Linked DNA regions of Homo sapiens. The protein of the gene in region 3 purifies or fractionates together with the protein of the main gene of each other region. This does not show direct contact. Each region holds a gene or a part of one and is shown on either strand. Other genes may lie near its edges.

Region 1 (3,657 bases), on a different chromosome or scaffold from region 3:
TTGATTTCTGAAACACCCATATCCACACCCTGAAAATATTTGTATAGTTTTCCTCCTTTCCATCGTCTTCCTTGGTTTGCCTGGAGTAAGTTAGTTCTCTTAATTAGCAAGAGAACTTCTTTGAACTTGCCTCTTTCTTAGAAGCAATCACTATTCCTTTGACCTGCAAGATTTCAATTATTTGGGATTTACAGACATCTGTAATATTGGTATTGGTATTTTATTTCCTTCCTTCAAGTATTTATTAAATATCCACTAGATGGCTTTGTCTTAAAGACATGAGCTAAATTAAATACACATCTTTTTAATAATAACTTTAGAATTTTTAGGCATAAAAGTCTTGCTGCTCTGCTGTATTAAATCTTCCTGCAGGCATGGTCAATTTGCTCTGTAATGCTTATACTAGGGAGGTCCCTCACTAGCCGCCAGGCTGTGAACCTTCGAATATTCAAAGTAGCCTCTGGGCTGGGTGGGTGTGGTGGCTCAAGCCCGTAATCCCAGCACTGTGGGAGGCTGAGGCAGGTGGTTTACTTGAGGTCAGGAGTTTGAGACCAGCCTGGCCAACACGGTGAAACCCTGTCTCTACTAAAAATACAAAAATTAGTCAGGTGTAGTGGTGCATGCCTATAATCCCAGCTACTCAGGAAGCTGAGGCAGGAGAATTACTTGAACCTGGGTGGAGGCTGCAGCGAGCCAAGATCGTGCCACTGCACTCCAGCCTGGGCAAGAAAGTGAGACTCCATCTCAACAAAGTAGCCTCTGGCTCAGTAACTAGCTTTCCCCTCTACAGTGTTTTAGGTATGTAGGAAATTATTGATTGTATACTTTTAAAATACACAAGAAAAAGTTATAGAATGCCATTGTGTCAAGCACTAGGCAAGTACCATAGAAGATTTAAAAACAAGAGGAATGCAATGGTAAATTAGTATTTATTAAACATTCTCTACTTATATACTGTCATAGCAGATTATATTATTAATATGTATTCTTTTGAAGTCACACCTTAAGAATGGAAGAGGAAGGGAATGGTTCATAATAGAGCCTGAAGTGTTGTATTCTCAAAACCCAGAAGATGACCTTCTCGTGCTTTTGCTCTTCTCCACTAAGTGAGGCCTGGCAACCTCAACTGCTGAATTAAACCTATCATGTAGTTCCTACCAAGAACACCTGCTCCTTTGAAAATAAAGATCAATTACATGCCATTTATTTAATTTCAAAATTCACTCTCACCTCTATTGTATTTCTTGAGGTAGCAGTTTGACTGTCTTAAATTTTCCCCCTCACTTCTCACCTTGAGAATGACCTCTTGTTATTCCATGATTTCCAACTATTATCCATATTTATGTAACTACCTTTCTTTACACAGCAAAAGAGATTCTTATGTTTTGGGAAAGTGGGTAGAGGTATGAAAATTAATAGATATCAACTAAAGACAGACATCTAAAACTGAAGGTTAAAGAGAGTATGTGGTAAAGGTGTAGAGAAGCAAGAGAGAAAAGTGGGAAATGCGGAGTCAGGTAGGGAGGGGAATGAATGTGTCTCAACATGAAAATACTGAGGATCATTTTGATGCCCTTTCTGTTCCTTGTCTACTAACATCTCTAGTCCTATTACACTTTTTCTTCATGATTTCCTCTCTGCTGCTGCTTTTCTAATTCATTAGTAAGAGATCCTCTTTACAGTCCTGGTCCTCTAATCAGGATGGCCTCGATGTCCTGCTCCCATAGGCTTTCCTTCTCTTTCAGCAGGTGTGTAAGACACAATTTAGGGATTTCTCACCTGGTAGGAATACTGGTTTTATTCACTATGTTCCAGTACATAAAATGTGCCCTACTCACCAGCTACCAGGCTGTGCACCTTTTAACATTCAAATTCTAGCTTTGGACTCAAAAACTAGCCTTCTCTTATATAGTTTTCACAAGGTTTTCACATTAAGAAAAAAGAGCCTCTTCTACTTCACTTTCCATAGTTATTTCAGTATTAAATCTCGACACAAAGTATAATGATAAAGAGACTAATTTTCCTATGTATCCCTAGACAAATTACTTTGCAACTTTTGCTCATGACTTCAAAACCTTGGAGAAAGAATCATCTATATGTAGTGTTTACTTCATGGCTAGACTGAAGATATAAATTTAAATTAGCTACATTTATAGAAGGCAAAAAGTAAATCTGTCCAACTCTTACTTAGGGAAAGAAAATCTTATGCTATTTCCATCATTGCTTGCACTTACCTTATCAACATATTTCTTAGGATTGTAAAATCACAATGTTCACCATTTTCAACTGTAAGAAAAAAGCAGACCGCATATGTTATATTTCCACTAAACCTAGTCTTTTCAAAAAATATTTCACAGGAACTTGGGGTGTAAAAACAAGAAGAGGAAATGCAAAACAGATCAATTTTTTTGAGATTTAACACTAACATAGTACACTCAATGTGAGGGCATGACAGAGAAGTGTACTCTATTATTGCCTTATTGTAGTTTAATCCTCAGAAATAGATATGTAAACCTAACAAATGAACTCTCCAGAAACAACTTTGAAATTCTGAAAGGGGAAATCTTATTATTGGTAAAAAATATATTTATTCTATAATACATTTAAAAAATTCAGTGGTGTGAGTGAAGGGAGAATCACTTTAGAAAAAATCTTAAGGTAACCAAAATGAAAAAGGGAGCCAAGAACTTTCAGGTTCTTTACTTTTATTTTTAAAGAATGTATCACAAATAGGAATATTACTTGGGAGTAGAGGGGTAAACTACAAAAGAGAGATGCAAATCAATTTCTCCGGTGCGTATTTTTAAGGGGTAAGTTCTAAAGCCCCAGCTCAGCAAGTAAAAGTTGCCTGGGCATGATAGAGAGAGCTGGGAACAAGGTACACAGGTCACTGATGGGAAAATTGCCAATAAGGACAGTTACCTGAAACAATATCCTAAAAATTAAAGAATTGTTCAAAATAAACCAGGGGCAGTGGTGTGTGCTTATAGTGACGTGATGTGGGAGGAGCATGATGTGGGAGGATCACTTTGAGCTCAGGATTCTGAGGCCAGTTGGGCAACATAGCAAGACCTTGTCTCTTAAAAAAAAAAACGAAGTTCAAAAATAATAGCAACAAACAGATAAAACAATCAAATCTCAATTTTGGTTTCAGCTTACTATAATACAGAAGATTAAGTATCAGATTAAACCAATACAATAAACCTATTGCCAAGAGGAAGTACTTCTGAGGCTTGGTGTTATAACTAAGATTTTATTGGTATTTAAAACTCCTTACTTAACCCTTAATAATTTAAGATAGCAGGTTAAAAAAGAAAACAAAAAACTCCTTACAAAACTAGTAAAGAGGATCTCTTATTAACGAAATTTTTTTACTCTAAATATGAGATATCAAAAAGGGCAACTTTTGCACTGAGGAAAGAAGACTGTGGATGTTTTAACTGGGCTTACAAATTTCTTCAATCATTCTTGAGGGTCCATGACCATCTGACGTTCCGATAAAAGTGACTGGCCTTCTCTCCAAATGTTTGATTCCAGGTGGTTCATTAGATTCCCTGGGAGCAAACTTTGGGCCCCAGGTAAAGAACCCCTCAATTTTAGTTATGTTTTCAAATATGAAAACAGAAATAGACTTAATGATGAGGCAGGATGCCAGCC
Region 2 (3,657 bases), on a different chromosome or scaffold from region 3:
CACTCCCTTTGAATGCCAGAGAGCAGGGAGCATTTGCTAGAGCTGGGCTTCCATCCTCCTTGTTGTTCCTGGATGGTAGTCCTTTGAGCAGAGCACACATCTATTCTCTTGTCATCCTGGTCCTGTTTCCAGGACTTCATGTGGGGTCATTTTCCCTTGACTGTAGAGAATAGCAGGTGCAAATGGTTACTAGTTTCTATCCCTTGTGCTCCAAACTGCCCTCAGAAACCAAGTCTTCTAGATCATTGATGACTCCTCACATTTGTTAAAACACTCCCATGTGACAGGCACCAAACCAGGCTCAGGGAAAGACCAGGATCTTCACCAGAAGTAATCATAGGTGGTTTGGCTCCGCTCAGGAGCAACCTCATGAAAAATTCACATACATATAATATTGCACTGGACTGAGTATTGGTCCACTTCAGGGACCTCCAAACTTGGCTGCCCTGCTGCAACCCTGAACCTGATGGTGGGACCATTTTCCCCGGAGCTGTGTCAATGTTCTGAGAATGTGAGTTTCACCGCTGTGTGTAGTCCTAGGCCAGGTGACTGCAGGGCCCTCCAGAGGACAGTGAATGTAATGCAGCTGGGAGCTAGCACCGGAGCCTCAGCTCCTGTGCTTGTCCTGCAGTCCTCATTCAGACTTCCCAGCTTCCCTTCAGAGGGTGTGGAGAAAGCAAATTAACTTAACAATATCTTTTCCTAGGGTGGAGATGCACCTTGGGTGCAGCATTTAAGGAAGCACTCACTCTCACAGCTGTCCAAGTGCAGGATGGGGACTGAGAGTGAGCGCCTCCTTAAATCTTGTGCCCTGGGTTAGATGTCTGCTTGTCTTTTCCATTCTATTTCCTGTGTTTGGGAAGCAGCAGGTATAATAAAATGAACTTGTATTTTATTTGAATTCCAGCTCTACTGCTTACTAGCAGAATGATGCTTGGGAAGTTAGCCACTTTAAGACTTAGCTTTTGCATTTGTTAAGTGCTGATAATATAACCTCCTATATATGATGTGTGTGTGTGTGCATGTAATGTAACCTTATAGGATTATTGTTAAATATCTTTCAGTATTTACTAAGATACTATTTATGTATTACCTAATGTTTATGACCTGAAGCAGGTTTTGGCAATTACCCCTTCTGTCTGTTCATTCTTATTTCATAAGGAATGAGATAGACATGATTGAATCAGTTCACATTAAGACTTCAAGCAGATGGGGCTAGTTTCTGATCATTTGTTTTACCAGACCCTGAGTAATGAGTGGATATAATTTTTTTTTCTTTTGTCTTTAACTTTTTAGTATGGGAATTTTCAAACTTATAGAAAGGTAGAAGCATATAAGATCATGAAATCATATGTGCCCATCCCCTACCTACAGCAACGATCAGCTCAAGGCCAATTCTGTGTCATGTGTATCTTCACAGCATTCACCCAGCCCTACCCTGGATTATTTTTAGGCAAATTCCAGACATTATATTATTTCATTCATAAATATTTCAGGTAATTACTGAAGATTTTTTTAAAATATAATCACAATACCTTTTTTCTGAAATTTCAATAGTACTTCATTAATTTATAATATAAAATATTCAATGCTCAGATTTCCCCCATTACTTTTTTTTTTTTTCCAACGGAGTCTCTCTCTGTTGCCCAGGCTGGAGTGCAGTGGTGCGATCTTGGCTCACTGCAACCTCTGCTGCCTGGGTTCAAGCAATTCTCCTGCCTCAGCCTCCCAAGTAGCTGGGAGTACAGGAACCTGCCACTGTGCCTAATATTTGTAGTTTTTTAGTAGAGACAGGGTTTCACCATCTTGGCCAGGCTGGTCTTGAACTCCTGACCTTGTGATCCACCTGCCTCGGCCTCCCAAAGTGCTGGGATTACAGGCGTGAGCCACCACGCCTGGCCATCATTTGTTTTAATATTTTGTTAGAATCTGGATCCAAGTCAGATTTTGTAGTACTTTCTTTTTGTTGTTGTTGTTAAGAGACAAGGCCTTGCTCTGTTGCCCAGGCTGCAGTGCAGTGGTGTGATCATAGCTCACTGCAGCCTCAAACTCCTGGGCTCAGGTAATCCTCCCACCTCAGCCTCTCAAGTAGCTGGTACTACAGTTGCACACAACCACACCTGGCTGATGGTACATTTTTAAGCTTTTATTAATCTGTGAATTTCTTTACCAACACAACTTTACATTCTTCCTTTCCATCTGTGGATCATTTGTCTTCTTATTATCTGTACTGGATTTTGCTGATTATATTTCCGTGACATTTTACCACATCCCTCTGAGCCCCGTATTGCCTGTAAATTAGTAGTTGAAACTAAAGACTAGATCAGATTCAAGTTTTTGAAGTTTTGGTGAGAATATTTCCTACGTGGTGGTGTTTACTTCCTTCAGGGGCCCACAGTGTCTGATTGTCCCTGATTGAGTGATGTTGGTGACCATAGTTCATCATTGCCTAGATGTCTTGTTCCATTAGAGGCCATAAAACGATAATGTTCTCTGTTTCTCCTTCTTCTTTTATTACCTGCAATATTTCAGTAAAGAGAAACTTCCCCTCGTTTACTATTTGGCTTCCTTTATTTCATATAGAAAAAGCCAGATACATGCTTACTTGATACCTTCTCTTTATTTACCAGTTTTCAGAATGATAATTTCATTCTGTAACATCCTCAAGGTAAAGTGGTCTGCATCTTCGTTTTTTGAGTGTAATTATAAACATATGAATTTAAACATATTTGATACGTTTCAGTTTGTTACAGATATTATTCTTATTGATGCTCTAATTGCCCCACTGTTGGCCAGCGGGAGCCTCTTCAAGTTGGTTTGTTGGTCCTTTTGACACAGCTCCAGTAGTCGTTGATGGCTCCCTGGCTTGCTGGTATAATGAGATGTTTTGAGCACATCTTAGCATTTCTTGCCCTAGAGCTAGAATTAGCCATTTCTCTAAGGAACGCTGGTTTCTTATGGTGGGAAGGGGTATACGGGTACTATCAAAGGCAGGTCGGTGACCATTTCCTTTTAATTCTCTGAAATCTAAACAGCTGAAAGTGCCAAATGTGGTGTCTAGCCTGGCTCCATGGAATTTTTAACACGGAGTTCTCACACAGCATATGATCATTCCTCAACTCGCCACTTGATGTCACTGCATAGTCAAATGAGCATTCAAAATTACCCTGCAGTGGTTTGTGTTATTTCTGATTCTGTTGAAAGCAATGTTAATGAGATGGTAGAAGGCAAATGTACTACTTCAAATGCAAAAGTACTCTATCAAATAATGCAGTGAGTGCATTCAATGACAAAATTAATTCTAAAATGAAAGCCTGGCGTCCTTCATTCAGTCTTCCTTCTTTATGACCTTGTGAAGAGATGTTTACAAAGGGATTATACATTTATTAGCATCGTTAATTACCGGTGCTTTTAGATGAATAGAATGCTGTGAAAAAAAATAGCACTATCAGAATATGTTTAGTATTCACAAGAGGCAATAGAATTATCCTCACACTTAGACCAGCAGCAACATTCCAGACTACTGTCCTTTCTCTATGCACTTAAGTTAGAGTTTGGCCTTTTCAGCTCATTTCAGCACCAGGTTCTCAATAGGGACCAACAGCAGGAGAAGTTTGATGGTCTTAATGAAACTTTCACGGTTTAAATGAAATGTCT
Region 3 (3,657 bases):
TTGTTTATTTTTTATAGCAATCCACAGTAAAACTAATGACCCAGTACACACATATACAAGTAATTTCACAAAATACTTCCCTTACTCTGTACAGTGCAACTCTTATCTTCTCTTCACTGTATTCTATCCCAATTAAACAAACACCAAAATAGCTGGTCACAACAAAGTTTAACATAAAGTTTGAAAACCCAGGGTGGGTAGAGGAGTATGTGTCCCAGGAGAACAAGACATAAGCATCTTTAAGACAAGAGACAGGGTTTTGTAAGACATTCTAATTCTAATCAGTATTACATGCTTTGTGAAAGCTCAAATAAGTTTACATGGGTAGGAGGATAACCTAATGTAATAAATATGAGAAATCAGTGATAAAACAACAAACCTGAAGAAGCAAAGCAAATGAACTATATGTTACCTCCTTTTTTGAAGTGAAAATGAGTGGCTAATTTCAGTTGTCAGGACATAAAATGTCTCTACTAAAAGTCCTCTTAAGGTTTTTTGATGTATCTGTTTAGTTAGAATATAACCTATATCTGCTATTCCTACAGTTCTCACTTTTCCATGTTAACTCATTACTCTATATTTTGTTTAGTAAACAATTTCCTAGATTGACATTTCACAATACATTGCCCACTTCCTGCCCGTAACAGCACAAAAGATTATTCTAATTTTATGAGATTTCACGCCCCCGGAAAAGGTGAATTACTGGATAACATAACAGTCTACTGAAAATAAACAGATCTACACAATCTTCCAGTCCAAACTATCACAACAAAATTCATTTTCATTAAAAAGTCAACATCAGTTGGTAGACTTTAAGATACCTTACACAATGCATATGTACCAAGTAAGCATCTGCTAATCAATAAGGAATTAGTTGAATTGTAGTACACCCAGTGGTTAACAGTGGGTAGATCTTTCTGCAAGTATATAAACAGGAAAGATGACCAAAGTATTAAATAAGTCAGTTGTGTAGTAGGATCTTGTTTTTATTACTATTAATTTGAAAAGAGGTTATTCACTCTCCATATCCTATACTTCTTGCAGTGTCTCTGCCAGATATAATTCTGGTACATGGTATGTGCCCCAGAGAAGTCTGTCAATGGAAGGAATGAACAGCTGAATCTTTTACAATGAGCATGTATGATTAGCCCTTGAAAATGTAATTTACACTCTAAATAAAAACATTTGTATTTTTAATGATGTTCTCCCCACAATGAGTTTCTGGATGCTGCAGGTAGCAGAGAACATACCTTAATTCCAAACTTGGATCTTGCCTTTTTGTAGGATGCCTCTCTCCCCCTCAACAACCTTCTTCTAGTTCTACCACGCTTCACTTTATTTCACTCCTTGCCTGGAGAATCTCAAAACACATTTTTTTCATGACTATTTTCTTTTATCATAGAATTTTGATTATTTCCCACTTTCTTGGACATTCTCAAATACCCTGCTTCTAGTTTTCAGTTCCTGGCAAGAAACCCTAAATGATGTCCATCAAATTTATGTTATCAGCTTTCTAATTATCTGCAACTACTTCACACTGTCTCCCCATTCTCTGTAACAGGCCAATACCACCCTTTTGTTTGCCCTCAGCATTCACACGCAGTTTTTCACAAAACAAAAGCCCTAAGAAAAGGTCCTCAGTTGGTTATCACCAAACCTAAACCCGCCTGTATCAGAATTTATCCTTTTCTCTTTTCTTTCTTGTTATAAAAGAAGTGCATTTTAAAGGCTAACCCCTCAACCTGAGCTCTGCAGTCCAGTTCCTTTCATGTCCTCAGGGCCACCTCCTTCACTGAAATTTACCTTGCTTTCCTAAATTTCTAACCTCTCCAGTAGACATTAGGCAGTCAACCGATATTCTGGTTTGCTTCTTTTAGTAATGTGGTAGAGAATCAAACCTTGCTTGTTATAAACCATTAAGATTTGGGGGTTGGTTATTACTGCAGCATAATTTGGCCCACTTTGATTTGCCCACTTTGATTTCCTCTTCACTGGGTGCTTCCCTCAGGGCATGAACATGGTCAAATCTCTTCACCTTAAAAACAAAAAACCCTCTCGTGAATTCCCCTACCCCTATCAGCTACGGCACTATTTTTCTTCCTCATCTTCACAGCAAAACTACTGGAAAATGTTCCACTTCTGAATCTCTGTTTCACTTGCCACCCTACCGCAATCTGGCTTTTACTTCCACAATGCCACAGAAAGGACTCCCATTAAGATCATCAACGACCTTGTTGATAAATCCAATAGACATTCTCTGCTCTTACATCATTTGTGCATGCTTGCCACTATCAATTACTTCTTGTTGATACGCTCTTCTCTCCTTTAAACACTACTCTTAGATTTCAAAACAACACACACCTTATTTTTCTCTTCTCTAGCTGATCTTTCCTAGATTATTTTGTAACCTTCTTTTCCTCAGCCTGTCCTTAAATTTTCATTTTCCGTATTTGACAGCCTGAGTGATCTACAGACCAGCAACACTGGCATCACCTGGGAGCCTGTAACAAAAGTCGAATCTCTGATCCCACCAGTGTCCTACATTTTAACAAGATGTCAGGTGATTCCTATGCACATTCAAGTCTGAGAAGCAATGGTCTATAGAATTCAGGCTGGGCCCACTCTATTTCTGACTGTTCACTCCCACACTCCAACTACTACCCATGAGCCCATTAACTGTCAAATACTTATCTCCAGTCTAGATTTTTCTAGGCATCAGATCTACACAGCCCTCTCCCTCCTGCAAATCCTCATTTGTATGCCCTATAACAATATCAAACTCATAGTGTCCATAGCTGAGCCTTCTTCCAACAAGCCTGATCCTTACAGATAGGCATAAAAGAGTCATCATTAACACTGTACTCGTCCCTTCAGATAAAATACATCACAAAATCATTTTGAGTCTACCTCCTAAATCACTTTAATCTGTCCACTCCCCTCCATCTCCACTGCCAACGTGCTAATTCAAGCTGTCATTTCTCACCTTAGTTACTGCAAGGGCTACTTCACTGGTCCCCCTGAACCAGGATTACCTCTCTTCAATCCATTCCTTATACTGCTACCAGAGTGAATTTAAACATTTAAAATCCAGTCATTTCATTCTTTGTTTAAAATGTTTTAATGACTTGCTACAGTCCTTAGAAAGACTCAATGTATCTCAAGGCCCCGCGTATTTTTCTAGCCCAGAGATTTTCAAATTGCTGTTTCTGAAATTATATTAAAGGATCATGACCAGCATTAATAAAAAGAGAACAGAGAAGTTCAAAAGCAAAAAAACCTCAAAGCAATGTGCAGATAATTAAATATTATTTTACAAAACTTTTCATCTAGTTATACATATGTGTGTACTGGGTTGTAAATTCAAATACATTCCTTTTTGGGCAAAGTGGCCAACAAGTTTGAAATTGACTGCCCTAACCTCATCTCAATACACTCCACATCCATGTTCTTATCTTTTACAGTTTCTCGAACTGAAAATGTGCTTCCTTGATCTCTATGTTATGGCACATGCTACTGCCTTTGCCTGGAATCTTTTCCAAACCCCAAACTTCAAACACACACACGTACATTCACTTTGTTATCTTTCAAGTTTCAACTTAAGGGTTACTGTCCCTGAAAAATCTTCTAAAATACCTTGCCCTGAGTTAGGTGATAGCC

Evidence for each region.
Region 1: the proteins of DHX36 (region 3) and SEPTIN7 fractionate together in Homo sapiens (co-fractionation; one large-scale study listed by BioGRID). This does not show direct contact.
Region 2: the proteins of DHX36 (region 3) and HEBP1 fractionate together in Homo sapiens (co-fractionation; one large-scale study listed by BioGRID). This does not show direct contact.

What each region holds. Positions count from the first base shown.
Region 1 is NC_000007.14:35,884,457-35,888,113, reverse strand, and holds part of SEPTIN7 (septin-7), read right to left. Parts: intron 2,287-3,657; coding exon 2,235-2,286; intron 1-2,234.
Region 2 is NC_000012.12:12,983,114-12,986,770, reverse strand, and holds part of HEBP1 (heme-binding protein 1), read left to right. Parts: intron 1-2,128; exon of another isoform or gene 2,129-3,427; intron 3,428-3,657.
Region 3 is NC_000003.12:154,317,831-154,321,487, forward strand, and holds part of DHX36 (ATP-dependent DNA/RNA helicase DHX36), read right to left. Parts: intron 1-3,657.